2 separate regions of the Homo sapiens genome follow, and region 2 is linked to region 1. A link means that fine-mapping ties the variant in region 1 to the expression of a gene that starts in the linked region. Tissue or cell type: nucleus accumbens. Region 1 holds a variant in brackets; the other region holds the start of a gene. All regions are shown on one strand. Distances are between the middles of the regions.

Evidence for each region. PIP is the estimated chance that this variant, and not a neighbour inherited with it, causes the effect.
Region 2: CAPG starts here. The variant in region 1 is fine-mapped to the expression of CAPG in nucleus accumbens (GTEx, PIP 0.97).

The regions. Positions count from the first base shown.
Region 1 is chr2:85,058,772-85,066,948 of GRCh38, reverse strand. KCMF1 (potassium channel modulatory factor 1) reads right to left here. Exons shown (of 7, transcript NM_020122.5): 7 at 7,477-8,177. LINC01964 (long intergenic non-protein coding RNA 1964) reads left to right here. Exons shown (of 2, transcript NR_146453.1): 1 at 1-2,166; 2 at 2,270-2,839. Among named protein-coding and RNA genes, the nearest start is that of LINC01964, 4.5 kb to the left of the region's middle. The variant A/G (reference allele first, on the strand shown) is at 3,855.
Region 2 is chr2:85,406,606-85,414,782 of GRCh38, reverse strand. It overlaps CAPG (capping actin protein, gelsolin like), which reads left to right and starts at 4,417. Exons shown (of 10, transcript NM_001747.4): 1 at 4,417-4,466. It overlaps LOC105374841 (a long non-coding RNA gene), which reads right to left and starts at 1,072. Exons shown (of 3, transcript XR_940316.3): 1 at 716-1,072. RefSeq lists silencers at 657-736, 4,190-4,239, 4,350-4,399 and enhancers at 867-916, 812-1,313.

The DNA.
Region 1 (8,177 bases):
CAAACTGTAAAGACCCTCACGGTGCTGGGAAACACAGCCCTGCTGGCCTCGGACTGCAGGACAGAATCCTTACCCCTCCTGGGCCTCCGTTGTGTTCTTTCCAAAATGGGATAATGGTAGCAGGTTAATGGAAATAATTAAATAAAATAGTCCATCTAAATTCCTGGATCGAACGAAGGGTCCAATAAACATTAGCTGTGCTGTTGTAGTGCTCAGTGCCTCTCTCTCAAAAGCGGGTGGCAACAGACACCCTCACACCTTCGCTGTAATGAGAGCTCTGCAAAGCCAACTGCAAATATTAGGAATCAGTGTCCTCACGAGGCCAACCCCTTTCCAAGGCTGCTTGGAAAATGCTTTGCTAGACTAGCTTGGATCTTGCTGGCTTGACTCAGATCACAGTTGAGCAAATGTGCAGAAGAGGAAGAGATGAGGGAAGGCCTGGCTCAGTGTGCTCAGAGCTTCGATTTTGAGACTGTTCGGGAGGAAAAGTTCCTCACCAGACAGTGCTCTGCTACTCTTAAAGCTAGAAGGACAGAAAGATTTCTCCACAGTTGGGGTCATGGAAATGTGTATTTTCTCCAAACCTTTTTTTCACTGAACCAGTTGTTGGAGCCTTCCATTTGAGACCTTGTGATGCCTTCATGGACATTATTTCTGCTCATCCACACAGCCAGCAGGGACTTGTGCAGCAGGAGGGGCAGGCTCAGAGTTAAGCAGCTGCTCCAACGTCACACGGCTAGCCTGGGCCTGATCTGGAGCTTGTCCCAGATCTGGAGCTTCCCAGGTTTGGACCTGGGTCACTAGAGCAGAGCCTCCTTGCCTCTTCGTGGATATGGAGCCAATTCACTGTGGCCGATCACCAGCCTCACAGACTAAGGGGGCAGCCCTGCCCCTGCCTACGCCCCTACCACTGCTGAAGCCATCTCCTTGCCGACAAACACAAGCAGAAACTTCTCAGGATCTGCTGCCTCTTGTTCCAAGGATTAGGCGAGCTTCTGTCTTGAGGACAGAAGAGGCAGCTGGAAGATCAGGGTTGTGGTTGAAGAAGGCCTAGGTAAGGTGCCATGACTCAAATGTCCCTAATGGGTGAGGGCTTTCAACTTTTGGAAACTGCAGGGGCAATTTTGGAGACAATGTTTAACTATAGTGTAAAGACTGCCAGTTTAATTTCTAATCCTGAAGAAATGTATATGTGGTCACAGGCTAATATTTCTAAAAGTCATCGAGTGACTTTACGTGTCCTAGCCCCATATTTCCCCAAAGATGACTGTCTAAATGCCCCTAAGAGAGGCTTTGGAGTTCCTTGACTTCTCTGAATTGTTGTAGTAAAGATAAGGCAGAAATTTTGAAGAGATCAGAAAGAAAAACTTTAGAACAAATCTCGTCTTTTCTAGAACTGTCTTCATTTTAATTTACTGTCATATCAGATAACCTGCCAGATGGCTTTTACTGTGTCTGAATTGAGTCAGACCAGCTGGGATGGGATCCTGCCTCCAGCAGTGGTGGGCCCCAGGAACATTTATTTCATCTCAGCATCAAGCATTCCCAAAGCAGCAGGGGCTAACGGGGCCGTAGAGATTACCCCTGCAGCTGTGGGGCTGGCCAGCCACACTTCCATAGATTTGTCTGTAGGGAGACATTGAGCCACATGGATTTGGACAGGTTGTTACATACGCAGACAGCAAAAGCTAAATCAGCATGACATGTCGCTCCTTGTGTCCCTCGTCCCACAGGAGGACACAAGGCTGGAAGGTTGGGACACCAGATGGCATGGACAGTGGGTTGCCCTGCTGTGCAGCAGCCAGCTCTCAACTGCAACCGAGCACTCTACAGACTTAGCAGGCACCTGCAGACGTAACTTGTGGGAGTGGGGAGAGAGGAGGAAAGCGCTGCGCTCAACAGAAACTAGGAAGATCGATGAGAAATGGCCTTGCAGCAGTTCCAAAAGGGTGGGGAGGCAGGTGAGACCACTCACGGCAGCGATGCACAGGGCCACTTAACGCCCCTTGCTCCATGAGGAGTTGCAGGGTGTTCCACCAAGACGCAGGTCAGGTTGCCGTCGAGCCCGGTGGAGATGTGCAGGGTTGCTGGGCACCTGGCAGAGCTGGTCCCTGACACGCACTTTTATCATCAGTAAAATGGGGATGTTAAGAATACCTACCGCAGGTATGTTTGACTTTTTTTTTTTTTTTGAGATAAACTTTACATAAAATTCACCATTTTAACCATTTCGAAGTGTACAAATTAGTGGCTTTTCATATCTTCACAGAGTTATGCAACCGTCGCCATTATCTAATTCGAGAACCTCTTCAACACTCCAGAAAGAAACCCAGTGCACACGAGCTGCCACTCCCCACTCTCTCCTTGCCCAACCCCTGGCAACCACTAATCCACTTTCTGTGTCCATGGATTTGCCTGTTCTGGGAATTTCATTTAAATGGAATCATATACTCTGTGGCGTTTTGCGACTGACTTTTTTCACTTACCATGTTTGCAAAGTTCATCCAAGTTGCAGCATGCGTCAGTACATCATTCTTTTTTATGGCCGCATAATAGTCCATTGTGTAGATCATGTTTGTTTAACCTTTCATCAGTGAATGGACATTTGGGTTGTTTCCTCTTTTCAGTTATTATGAATGATGCTGTTCTGAGCATGAATGTAGGAGGTTTTGTGTGAACATATGTTTTCAATTCTCTTGGATATACCTGGGAGTGGAATTGCTGGGTCACATGGTAATTCTATGTTTAATGTTTTGAGGAACTGCCAAATTGTTTTCCACAGGGACTGAGTATTTTATATTGGTATGCACTTTTGAAATAATAAAAAACACTCTTAACAGAGTCTGGCCCACACCATTCATTCTTTTATCCCATAAATATTTATGGAGCACTTACCGTGTGCCATGCCTTATAGACATGGAGATACAAGGGTGACTAATGGACAGCCCTGCCCTCAGGAAGCTGGCATCTATGTGTGTGTGTATGTAGGGGTGTGTGTGTGTGTGTGTGTGTGCACATAATGTGTATATGGGGTAGGGAGGATGTCAGATGGTGATAAGAGTTATGGAGAAACAGTCCAGGTGCAGTGTCTTACGCCTGTAATCCCAGCACTTTGAGAAGCTGAGGTGGGTGGATCACCTGAGGTCAGGAGTTCGAGACCAGCCTGGCCAACATGGTGAAACCCTGTCTCTACTAAAAATACAAAAATTAGTTGGGTGTGGTGGTGGGTGCCTGTAATTCCAGCTACTTGGGAGGCTGAGGCAGGAGAATAGCTGGAACCCTGGAGGTGGGGCTGGGGTGTACCGGGTGGGCCTGGGATCCCTGTTTTCATTTGGGTAGTCAGAGAAGGCCTCACCGACAAAGAGAAGGAGGCAAGGAAATATGGATCTTCCAAGAAAAGGGGACTGCAAAGGCAAAAGTCCCAGAGCTGTGGCATGCCCGAGGGACAGCAAGGTGGTCAGTGAGGCTTGGGGGAGGGAATAGAGTAGCAGGGGATGAACCCCAAAAAGGAATAAGAGCCACAGCCTGTGGGAGCCAGGGGCTGTGGTGAGGACTCCGCCTTTCCTCTGAGAGGGAGGAGCGGCAGAGGGATTGGAGGTGTAGGTTCTGACAAGATTACCCAGGTGCTGTGCTGGGACATGGAAGTGCGGGGGCAGGCATGCCACTTGGAAGCTATAGCGATGACCCTGTGGGGATATGATGGAGGCCTGGGCCAGCGGCAGCAGTGAAGATGGTGGGAAGGGGGCAGTTTCTGGAAAAGTGTGGAAATAGAGACAGCGGGATCTGCTGACGAAATGGATGTGAGGTTCAAGAAAAAGAGTAGAAAATGATTCCAACAGGTTTTGGACTGAGCA[A/G]CTGGGAAGCTGTGCTATTTAGTGAGCTGGGGACCTCTTTGCTTTATTCACTGGAGAACCCCAAGTGCCTAGAACAGTGCCAGGCACTTAGTAGATGCCCAAGAAACTGACTGAGTAAATGAAGAGGTGGTGGGATCCATAGTAAAGCCTCAGTTGATGTTTATTCTTTGATACCTATGGTCTCCTGACCTAGGGTGATTCCCGTCCTTCCCCAGCTCTTGAACTCCTCAGATAAAGAAACTTGAGCTTCCACGATTTTTACCAGGTCACTGACCCTCATGGAGTTTTGCCAGAATGACTTAGAAGTATTTGAAGCAGGATGGGGCTAATTAAATCAATGTGCTGTGTTTGCGTAGAAGTTATCTGGCTCTGTCTTTGCTCCCAAGCAAATCCCACTCTTTCTTTCCTTATTTATTTATTTATTTTTTGACAGAGTCTCACTGTGTTGCCCAGGCCGGAGTGCAGTGGCGCGATCTTGGCTCACTGCAACCTCTGCCTTCCTCAAGTGATTCTCATGCCTCAGCCTCCTGAGTAGTGGGGGTTACAGTCACCCACCAATGCCCCTGGCTAATTTTTTGTACTTTTAGTAGAGATAGGGTTTCACCATGTTGGCCAGGTTGGTCTTGAACTCCTGTCTTCAAGTGATCTGCCCGCCTTGGCCTCCCAAAGTGCTGGGATTACAGCTATGAGCCACTGCTCCTGGCCCAAATTCCACTATTGGTCACCTTTGGGTCCCTGTTATGTTGGTTGCCTTCTGAGGCACCTGCCATTTTTTTATGGTTACTTCACACCAGGCACTGTATTAGCACATTATTTAATACTATGATTAGCTACATTTAAGAATGAGACAATAGGCATACTGTTTAATTAAAGTTAATTAACTTGGCCAAGATCACACAGCTAGTAAGCGGTAGGGCTAAGATTGAAACTCACATCTGTGCTTGTAACCACAGCACTTTATCTTCTCCCTGTTCTGGGTGGATATTTACTTGTCAGGAAGGTTTCCATGGGAACTCCTGCACCCAGAGAGCAATTAGACCTTTCCAATTCTAAGCTTTAATTCCAGAGTTCCATTCTCCAGGTTTTCCCTAACTTCACCTCCAACCCAGCTTGATTTTGAGTCCCATCCACTGCCCTTGACACAAAAATGTGCATCTCCTTATCCCCACCGTGAATTCCAAGTTCTAACATCTGATCAAGCAAGACCACCATTTTCCCTTTTTCTTTCACAGCGCAGGCAATGTCAGTAATCCAGGAAATTCCGCAAATTTTACCTCCCCAGAATTGACCTACCAATTATTACCCATGACTTGCCTCCTAGTCCAAGCATGATCTGGGTACTTTTGAGGTAAGAGAGAGAATCCCAAGAGAGAGAACCCTAATTTCTAATACAGAAGATTCACATCCATTCTCATGATTCATTGTAATTTTTCCAACCACTTCTTTTTACAAACTTAATTCCATTCTTTCTCCCAGCCAACATCTGTTATGGCTGGCTACAGAATTTATAAGCATCTAAAAGCTATCTTACAAACACTTCATCAAATGCTGTCTACTTGAAATGTAACAATGTCTAAAATGTGTGCCTTACAACAGTATAAGATGTGAAAAGTGCTATTTGTTGCAACCTTTACATTTTAGGATTCGTGGAGTAATCAACCAACCCACCCCAATCCTTGGTGGCCAGACTCTACCAGAGCTGAAGGCAGTTTGAAAGACAGCTGTGTGAAAAGAATGTGTTGCCCAGGACCACTGGACAAGCGCCTGCGAGTGGACATGGTGGGTTTTGGTTTTCTTAGGTGGACTTGTTCGGGGCTTTATAACCATAGAATGGTGAACACTTGGAAAATACTATGAAAGGATTAAAAGTTTTATCGAAATATGCCAAAAGTGTTCTTAAAAAGATCCGGCCAGGCATGGTGGCTCATGCCTGTAATCCCAGCACTTTGGGAGGCCAAGGTGGGCAAATCGCTTGAGCCCAGGAATTTGAGACCAGGCTGGGCAACATGGTGAAACCCCATCTCTACAAAAAACACAAAAATTAGCTGGGTATGGTGGCATGTGCCTGTAGCTCCCAGCTACTCGGGAGGCAGAGGTGGGAGGATAGCTTGAGTTCAGGAGATCTAGGCTGCAGTGAGCCGAGATTGCACCACTGCACTCCAGCCTGGGAGACAGAGTGAGACCCTGTCTTAAAAAAAAAAAAAAAATACAATCCACCATCCTCCTCAGAACACAGTGACTTGGGGGACAACCCTAGAGCCCTAGGCTGGAGTGAAAGGCATTTGTTCAGGTAGATACTAAAAGGTAATTTTCACTACTTGCTTTTAAACCTGCCATTGGCTTGGCCGGGCACGGTCGTTCATTCCTGTAATCCCAGCACTTAGGGAGGCTGAGGTGGGCGGATCACCTGAGGTGAGGAGTATGAGACCAGCCTGGCCAACATAGTGAAACCCCGTCTCTCCTAAAAAACAAAAAATTTGCTGGATGTGGTGGCGCGGGCCTGTAGTCCCAGCTACTCAGGAAGCTGAGGCAGAAGAATCGCTTGAATCCGGGAGGTGGAGGTTGCAGTGAGCCGAGATTGCGCCACTGCACTCCAGCATGGGCGACAGAGTGAGACTCCGTCTCAAAAACAAAACAAACAAACACCAAACAAACACACAAAACAAAAAAAACCCTGCCATTGGCTAGAGGCAGTTGAGTGTTCAAAATGGGGAAAAACAACCACCAAAAGCCAACAGGAACTCTGAAGAGGGAAAAAAAAAATGGATAAGGAACAAGTCTTGTCCCTTCCGGTCCTGAGTGGGTGGGGCTTATGTTCATGCTGAAGTTCAGGGGGCTCCTTCTCAAGTCCTTCTTTCTAGTCTTGCCCTGTGAAGCTGTAAGTAGAATCAGTATTCCAAAGTCCTTTTCTGGACTGAGGAGAGAGGCCACATGTTCACCCCTCAGGCTCAGACACCAGCAACAGTGGTAACCAGGGTGGTCCTGAAAATTCCGTAGGCAAATGGAACTGAAACTGCAGATGTCACTGGAAGCATTAATAAAACACACACACACACACACACACACACACACACACACACACACACAGAAACAGGAGAGGACGCAGACAGGGACAATAGGAGTAATGGTATTTCACAGGGGATTTAAAACTATAGAAATGAGGCCAGGTGTGGTGGCTCACGCTTGTAATCCCAGCATTTTGGGAGGCCGAGGCAGGTGGATCACCTGAGGTTAGGAGTTTGAGACCAGCCTGACCAACATGGTGAAACCCCGTCTCTACTAAAAATACAAATACAAAATACAAAATACTAAAAATACAAAAAAGTAGCTGGGCGTGGTGGCACACATCTGTAATCCCAGCTACTTGGGAGGCTGAGGCAGGAGAATCATTTGAACCCAGAAGGCGGAGATTGCAGTGAGCCGAGATAGTGCCACTGCACTCCAGCCTGGGCAACAAGAGCAAAACTCCATCTCAAAAAACAAAACAAAACAAAAACTATAGAAATGCCGAAACACCAGTGCCACAGATGACCAAGTCTGTGTTGAACATTACTGACATCTTAAGATGACACAACACTGAAGTCACACTCAGCTATCTCAGTGAATGCAATGGAAACTGAGGTGCACAACACAAAGTTTATTCAAATCAGAAAACAGATAAGCTTCATGACAGGTGGTGATGTTATAAAAGGTAATCTATATCAAGGGTTCAGTACAAATTAGTCTCGGAGCCTGATACAATATGCAATTTATTCTAAAGTACTGTATCGTCAGTGTGATATTTTCCAAGGTAAGTCTGAATCGTGAGTGGTCAGCACACATGGTGGCTGCTATCCGATAGGGCAATTCAACAGACACTGCTAATTAGCATACTATATATTTAAAAATGGACTTTTATGGGGAAACTAGTGTCTTGTTAATTGTCATGAAAGGTTCTCGTGGGCAAAATTAAATGGATTCAAGGCTGGCCAGAATAGCTTTCATGACTAGGGGGTAAGAATCCATGAACTCTCCTTCAGTCCCTAGCGACAGTGGCTGAGGCCTGTGTCTGTTGGTCCAGTCCACTTGCCAATACAGGAGTATTATAGAATCTTACCCCAGGAATATTGCTGCATCTACCTCAAGAAAACCTTATATACAGGGTGTGGTCTCCTTATATACAAGGAGAGAGAGCTGGGACTCCATCCAGCTTACAGAAGAGGATGCTTCTGGGCTGGCTTCACTATTAAATGAATATGGATCTCTTATGTGTGAGGCAGATTCCAAATGCTGTCAGTCTAATTTGGTAGATTTAAGGGAGCAGCTCACTCACCAGCTCTGATT
Region 2 (8,177 bases), 350 kb before region 1:
AGGGTCAGGTGTTGCAGGTCAGATCAGCCTGGGTTAGAATCCTGGTTCAGCAGTTGGGTGCGGTGGCTCATGCCTATAATGCCAGCACTTTGGGAGGCCAAAGCAGGAGGATCACTTGAGCCCAGGAGTTTGAGACCAACCTGGGCAATAGAGTGAGACACAGTCTCTCCAAAAAAAAAAAAAAGTTTAGCTGGGCGTGGTGGCATATGCCTGCAGTCCCAGCTACTCAGGAGGCTGAGGCTGGAGGATTGCTTGAGCCTGGGAGGTTGAGGCTGTAGTGAGCTGTGATCACAGCACCGCACTCCAGGTGCCGCGACAGAGTGAGACCCTGTCTCAAAAAAAAAAAAAAAAATCTTAGTTCTGCTACTGAACTAGCAATGTGACACTCTGGACAAGTTAGTTACCCTCTCTGAGCCTCCCAAAGACTTCATGTTTCCAGCAGGAATAATGATAGTAGATGTGAGGACGCACCAAGCACATAGTAGGCTCTCACAGAACAGTAGCTGTTCACAGGGTGATTGAGGCCGGGGGCCTAACGATTGAATGGAAGTGAACACTGCAATTCTCTCGCAAAGTTTACAGCACAGTAAGCTTGTCCTTAGCTTCCCCTATACCCTCCTTCCCACGCCCAATTCTAGGACCCTTTCGGGCGCCCCAGCCTCCCATAGGGGCTCCCCGCCAGCTCAGACCGGCCGGGCCCCTCCCTCTGACTCACCGGGGGCGGCTCCTGGCCGCGCACCTCCAGGGGGCGGGGGGCGGCTGAGACAGCGCCCAGGGCCTCGGAGCAAGGCGTTGGCAGGCAAGTAGTGCGCTTCGGGGTCCGGTCGCCGGGGACCTGGGCTCCCCATGTAGGGGTCGAACGGGCTTAGCCGGTTCGGGGGCGCCCCGCTCCCTCCTCTTCTCCCACAGCCGGGGTCCTCTCTTAGGGGCGCGCCGTCTCCTGGCTTCCTGTAAGAAAAGGCGGGAGAGGGTGGGTCCGTGCTAAAGAAATACTTTATTTTACTTCATTTGGGACAAACTAAGCAGTAGTGCTCAGGGGAGACCACAAGGGTAGGAACACTGTGCGTCTGGTAAAAAAACTAGTTCTAGAGCGTCGTTACCAGATAACTCATTAGCATGTGCATTGAGTTCCTAGCCGCTCCCGAGAGTCCTAGGCTGAGCGACCGGCCCTTTTGTTTCGCTGTTGTTGTTGTTTGTTTTTTGAGACGGAGTTTTGTTTTTATTGCCCAGGCTGGAGTGCAGTGGCGAGATCTCGGCTCACCGCAACCTCCGCCTCCCGGGTTCAAGCGATTCTCCTGCCTTAGCCTCCCGAGTAGCTGAGATTATAGGCGCCCGCCACCACGCCCAGCTAATTTTTGTATTATTAGTAGAGATGGGGTTTCGCCACGTTGGTCAGGCTGGTCTCGAACTTCTGACCTCAGGTGATCCGCCCGCCACGGCCTCCCAGAGTGTTGGGATTACAGGCGTGAGCCACTGCGCCCAGCCAGTTGTTTCGCTGTTAATGTGTAAACCTCTCCCCTTTTTTCCTGTGGTGATAGGAGAGGCTTTAGCCTAGACAGCTGAGTGTGAGGAACAGTGATTCCCATTGATCCTTGTTCCCTCCGTGGGTCACAGAGTCCAGAACTTAAGAGCCACCCAAGGTATGCGCTGTTGTGACCAAAATCTATGAAGCTTTCCAGCGCTGGGGCTGGGGATGGAAATAGGAGAGTGCTCTGTGGTTTAACTTTCTTTCCTCCTGTGGAGAAACCGGGAGCTAGGGGAGTGGCCAGGCACATTTCTACCTCAGGTGCTGATGGCACATTGCAAACTAAAGGGAAGAGAAAGAAGTCTGGGTTTATCGAGCATGTATTATTTGCTCATTAATCATAGGATCTCATTTCATCTTCACATTTAACTGTATGCACGTGTTACAGATTGGGGCACAGGGAGGCTCCAGGAGGTTAAGTCACTTGCACAGCTAGTAAGGAGCCAAATTGTCTAGCTCTTATCACTCTACCAGGTTAACCGCCCAGCCTGTGGTTTTGTGGGGACTAGGCCCTACTGGGATTCTCACCCAGACTATCCTTTTTTTTCTTTTTTAAACTTTTAAGTTCAGGGGTACATGTGCATGTTTGTTATATAGGTAAACTCGTGTCATGGGGCTTTGTTGTACAGATTATTTTGTCTCCCCGGTATTAAGCCTAGTACCCATTAGTTATTTTCCTGAATCTCTCCCTCCTCCCACCCTCCACCAAACTACCCTATTATTATTGTTATTATTATTATTTTTTGAGACTGAGTCTTGCCCAGTCACCCAGGCTGGAGTGCAATGGCGCAATCTCGGCTCACTGCAACCTCTGCCTCCCGGGTTCAAGCGATTCTCCTGCCTCAGCCTCCTGAATAGCTGAGATTACAGGCATGCGCCACCACCCCCGGCTAATTTTTTGTGTCTTTAGTAGAGATGGCGGTTTAACCATGCTGGCCAGGCTGGTCTCGAACTCCTGACCTCATGATCCACCCGCCTTGGCCTCCCAAAGTGCTGGGATTACAGGCGTGAGCCACCGCGCCCGGCCCATATTACCCTATTTTTAAGCCTGGCAGTTTGGCCATGGAGACACTTGGATGCTAGCTACAGGCCATGTTCTTTGGGGAGAAGATTTAACTTCCCGTCTTGCTCTAGTGAAATTTTATCAATTTCGTTTCAATGAGAAACATTCATCCAGTATTGCTTTTTTTTTTTTTGAGATGGAGTCTTGCTTTGTCTCCCAGGCTGGAGTGCAGTGGCGCCATCTCGGCTCTCTGCAGCCTCCGCCTCCTGGGTTCAAGTGATTCTTCTGCCTCAGTCGCTCCAGTAGCTAGGATTACAGGCACCCATGACCATGCCCGGCTAATTTTTGTATTTTTAGTAGAGACAGGGTTTCACCATGTTGGCCAGGCTGGTCTTGAACTCCTGACCTCAGGTAATCTGCCTGCCTCAGTCTCCCAAAGTGCTGGGATTACCGGAGACAGCCACCATGCCCAGCCTATCCAGTACTGTATTTTCTCCAGACTTTTCCCACGCAGTCAAATAATGAGGTTTTGTTTGAAGGTCTGCTAATTAGGAAGATTTGTTCCAGATTTTGCTCCAGGGTCCCCAGGCCTTGACCCTGAACCTGGAGCCTTGTCTCAAGCCAGCCTGCTGACCAATACCTTTCCAGGACAGGCCGGCTAGGTTCTGGGCAGAGGAACTACGCTTGTGTGGCTGCATAACTGGGTGCTCACTTTCTCCTGGAGCCTCATACTGAGTCCGCTCATCCTTCCCCCAGGGATTCAGAAGGGAATGGGAGCCTCCCTTGCAGGGGCTTCCACTCCCTGTGTGTTTGTGGGCAGTCTCTTGTGCTCTCAGGACCTCGGTGTCCTCCAGAAAGCCAGCGAGTTGGAGGAGACAAGCTCTAGGGTCTAGTGACTGTGATGTAGGCAGGATAGTTGCCCTGGGTCAACCCAGGATGGGCTGTCTCTCAGAGGGCCCAGGGCCCAGAAGTCATGATGATAAACATCTGGTGAATGAGAAGCAGACCAAAGGGTAGAGACCTGAGAGGCATCAGCATGGCATGCGGAAGATGGTGAAGAATGTTTTATGGCCTCAGCCATTCCCTGAGAACTGAGCTTAGCCAGGTGCAGTAGCCCACGCCTGTAATCCCAGCACTTTGGGAGGCCAAAGTGGGAGGATTGCTTCAGTTCAGGAGTTCTAGACCAGCCTGAGTAGCAAGACTCTGTCTCCAGAAAAAATAAAAAAATTAGTCGGGCATGTTGGTGCAGGCCTGTGGTGTCAGCTGCTCAGGAGGCTGAGGCAGGAGGATCGCTTGAGCCCAGGAGTTCAAGGCTGCGGTTAGCGGTGATAATGCCACGGCACTCCAGCTTGCGTGACAGTGAACCCTGTCTCAGGAAAAAAAAAAAAACAAAAAAAACCAAAAAACTGATCTTAAAAAAAATCAAATACTTGCATTCAGGGCAAGGAGAAAGACAAACTGAGGGAGGAGGAAAAAGTAATGTGAAGCCAGTGACCCTGCCCAGAAAATGTGACTAACCCAGCAGCGGTGGGGGCTGTGCCGCGCCTGCCCCAGGCCCTGAATGGAGAACATGGCTTTCCTTGCTGGTCTCAGACTCAGAGATGCCCTCCCTGATTTGCCTTGGCTGTGACCTGCAGCGGGCTGAGGCCACTGTGGTGGGGCTGTGTGGACCTCCAGCCTCCCTGTGTGCCCCTCTGAGGAGACGGCCTGGCATACCCACTGCCCACCCCAGTGACTGCTCTTCTGCTTCAGGCCTGCTGGCCTCCCAGCACTGCCTGCCCCTCCCTGTCGGGGGACATCGCCTCCACACCGGCTGGGGAAGGAGCCCAGGGGTGGGGCTGGTGGGTGGGGCTGGTGGTTGGGGCAGCCAGAGAAGTAAGAGGGAAGTGAGAAGCCGGGTGGGGCAGGCTGGAAGGAAGACGAACCTACGAAGCAGAGGTAGGAGGAAGAAAGGAAAGTAGGAGTGTTGAAAGGTGAAGGTGGCAGGGTGGCTGCCAGCGCGGCTGGCTGGTACCCTCCTGGGTGGGCAGGCGAGGGCTGGCTGTGGTGGCCTGGGAACAGAGACCCACATTTCTGGATACCACATTGTGCCAGGGTGGAGTTCCCCCAGCCTGCTGTCCTGCCAGCCTTATGCCAGGCTCCAGGCACCTGATCTGATGGCAGCTGTGAAGCTGCCCGGGAGGATGGGTGGGCTGTGCCCATGCTGCACATGGAGGAACTCTTGGGTCAGGGCTTGTCCCAGCTGTGCCAGACCTCCTGACGGAGGCCACCACACTGCTCCTGAAGGCCCTCAGCCAGACTGGAGGTGAAATCAGATTAGAAGCTGCCTGTCCCCAAGACAGGACTGTGGTGTGATGCTATTTGGGTGGGAGTGGCTTGGGGAGGGGGCAGGGCAGTCCTAGCCATTTGAATTCAAATGCAAGTGGCACATTTGATTATTTTGCAAACTCTGGAAGACCTTGGCTGAGGGTCTAGGTGGACTGTCTGAGGTAGGAGGTGGGGAGGGAGGAAGTGGTTGACCCTGGGGAAGGGTAGGAGACCTATTTGGTATCAGGGGAAAAACCATTTGGAATCCCCAAATGAGGCCTCTGGACCTAGATTCTGAGAATGCCATGTCCCAGGCTGGGAGATTCAGTTTGGTTTCGAGGGTGGGCACCTACCTCCACCAGGAGAAGTGGAGGTGCTGTTTCATTTCACACCTAGGGGCAAGCAGGGACTGTGAAGGGAAGAGACCTATTGGGGGTCAGTGGAATCAGGGTCTGAGGAAGGCAAAGGTACCACTGGACCCCGGCAGGATTTTTGTCCCTCTGATGGCTGTCAAGTCTTTCCTTAAAGGTGTGTGTAACGGTGACCTCCTCTCCGAGGTCCCCCAGTGTGTCCTCAAAGACAGCCTAAGTCAGGACCATGGGACAGCCAGCAGGACTTGCGTCCTCCCCTCCCCCAGCCCCATGGCAGTCTGGGACCCCTAGCCCCTGCTCTCTGCCTCCTGGGGCTGCTCCAGCCTGTCCCAGCCTTTTGAAATCCTGGGCTATCCCTTAGGTGCCACCCCAGTCTAATAATCAGAGCCCAGCAGGTCCAGTTAATCAAATGCATTCTTTGAGCACCTGCATGAGGTTCCAGCTAGATCCAGAGGCAAAATACACTTCCTGCCCTAAAGGACCCTACAGTGTAGTAGTGGAGGTAGGCGGGTCCATAACTCACCACACTATGGCAGAGTGGGGAAAAGTAAAGGCTTTAAGAGGTGTAGAAGAGGCTGTTTGGTAAGGTGGTGAGTTTCCCATCACTGGAAGCCTTCAAGAAGAGGATGGTAAGGGATGCTATAGAAGAGATTTCTGCACTATGCGTGTATGGGTATGTGTAGGGCGGTGCAGGCAGAGCAGGACTAGATAAGAACTTTAGCGCTTTCTTTTTTTTGTTTTATTCCTCCCCCCCGGCCCCAGCTCCCCTCTTCAACTTTAGCACTTTCTAATGCTGACATCTGTGATTCTGTGACATTCCCCACTTAGAGGAAGTTCGTCTGCGGTTTCACTGGGTATGGTGGCTCCCTTGTTCACTGCACCCTGCAGCTAAACCATAAAACATGGGCTATTCTTTGTCTCTGTGCATGTCACCCCCAGTGCCAAGCCCCCAGCACAGACGTTGAGTGGAATGGAATAGACTCTTTGCTGGGCTGCTTGAGGAACAGAGGCATCAGGTGTGTCCTTGCTCCAGTTGAGATGTGAAGCAGCCAGTTTATGCTATAAAACAGGCTAAAGTATGTGCTCCCAGGGGAGAGGGCTGGGAGAACTCCCAGAGAAGGCGGAGGCCACTTAATGTCCTGGAAGTTTCCTTGGACAGCTGGGGCTTGATACGGGCCTGGAAGGATAAGGGGGCTTGTGTGTGTGTGTGTGTGTGTGTGTGTGTGTGTGTGTGTGTGACAGATTCTTCCTCTGTTGCCCAGGCTAGAGTGCAGTAGTGCCATCTCGGCTCACTGCAACCTCTGCCTCCCGGGTTCCAGCAATTCTCCTGCCTCAGCCTCCTAAGTAGCTGGGACTACAGGCACGCACCACCATGCCTGGCTAATTTTGTATTTTTAGCAGAGATGGAGTTTCACCATGTTGGCCAGGCTGGTCTTGAACTCCTAATCTCAAGTGATCCACCCGCCTCAGCCTTCCAAAGTTCTGGGATTACAGGCATGAGCCACTGTGCCCAGCCTAGGATGAGGGGGCTTTAATGGATGTAAGGGTGAACATGGACACTGAGGAAGCTCAAGGAGCTGTGGGCTTGGACAGAGGGCTGGGATAGGGGAAAGAATGAAAGGCCAGAGGTCAGGGTGGACCCTTCCCCAGGAGAGACTGGAACAAAAGGTCTCGGGACAGAGATCTAATGAGGCAGCAGGAGTTTCAACCCTGACCAAGCATTAGAGTCATCTGGAGCTTCTCAAACACTGACATCCAGGCTCCACCTAGAGAGTCTGGTTTTAATGAGTCCAATATGGAAGCTAGTCACTGGGGTTTTTCTTTCTTATTTTTCTGTAAATTACTTTTTTTTTTTTTTTTTTTTGAGACAGAGTCTCACTCTGTCACCCAGGCTGGAGTGCAGTGGTGTGATCTCGGCTTACTGCAACCTCCACCTCCCAGGTTCAAGCAATTCTTGTGCTGCAGCCTCCCAAGTAGCTAGGATGACAGGTGTGCGCCACCACGCCCAGCTAATTTTTGTATATTTTGTAGAGACAGGATTTCACCATGTTGCCCAGGCTGGTCTTGAACTCCTAAGCTCAAGCATTCCACCTACCTCAGTCTCCCAGTGTGCTGGGATTACAGGCATGAGCCACCATGCCTGGCTGGCACTGGGGTTTTTCAAAAGCCCCCAAATGATTCTAATGTGCAGGTGAGCATTTGACACTGTTCTGGACAGAATTCACTGGCACTACTACCATCACTTTGAACATATGTTCAAAATATGGGTGATCAAGCCCCATTCCAGACCTGTGGAATCAGAATCCCCAGACCAGGGGCTTGGGCACTGTTAAAGAAAAAAAATATGGCCCAGGCGCAGTGCCTCACGCCTGTAATCCTAGCACTTTGGGAAGCCAAGGTGGGCAATCACTGGAGGTCAGGAGTTCAAGACCAGCCTGACTGACATGGTGAAACCTCACCTCTACTAAAAGTACAAAAAATTAGCCAGATGTGGTGGTGCACGCCTCTAATCCCACTACACAGGAGGCTGAGGCAGGAGAATTGCTTCAACTCAGGAGGCAGAGGTTGCAATGAGCTGAGACTGTGCCACTGCGCTCCAGCCTGGGCAGCAGAGTGAAACTCTGTCTCAAAAAAAAAAAAAAGAAAATTACTAAGAGGAAACATCAAGGGTAAAGAGATTCTGGCTAGACTGAGCTAACAGGATTCCTTTTTTTTTTTGAGACGGAGTTTCGCTCTTGTTGCCCAGGTTGGAGTGCAATGGCATGATCTCAGCTCACTGCAACCTCTGCCTTCCGGGTTCAAGTGATTCTCCTGCCTCAGCCTCCCGAATAGCTGGGATTACAGGCATGAGCCACGAAGCCCAGCTAATTTTGTATTTTTAGTAGAGATGGGGTTTCTCCATGTTGGTCAGGCTGGTCTCGAACTCCCGACCTCAGGTGATCTGCCCGCCTTGGCCTCCCAAAGTGCTGGG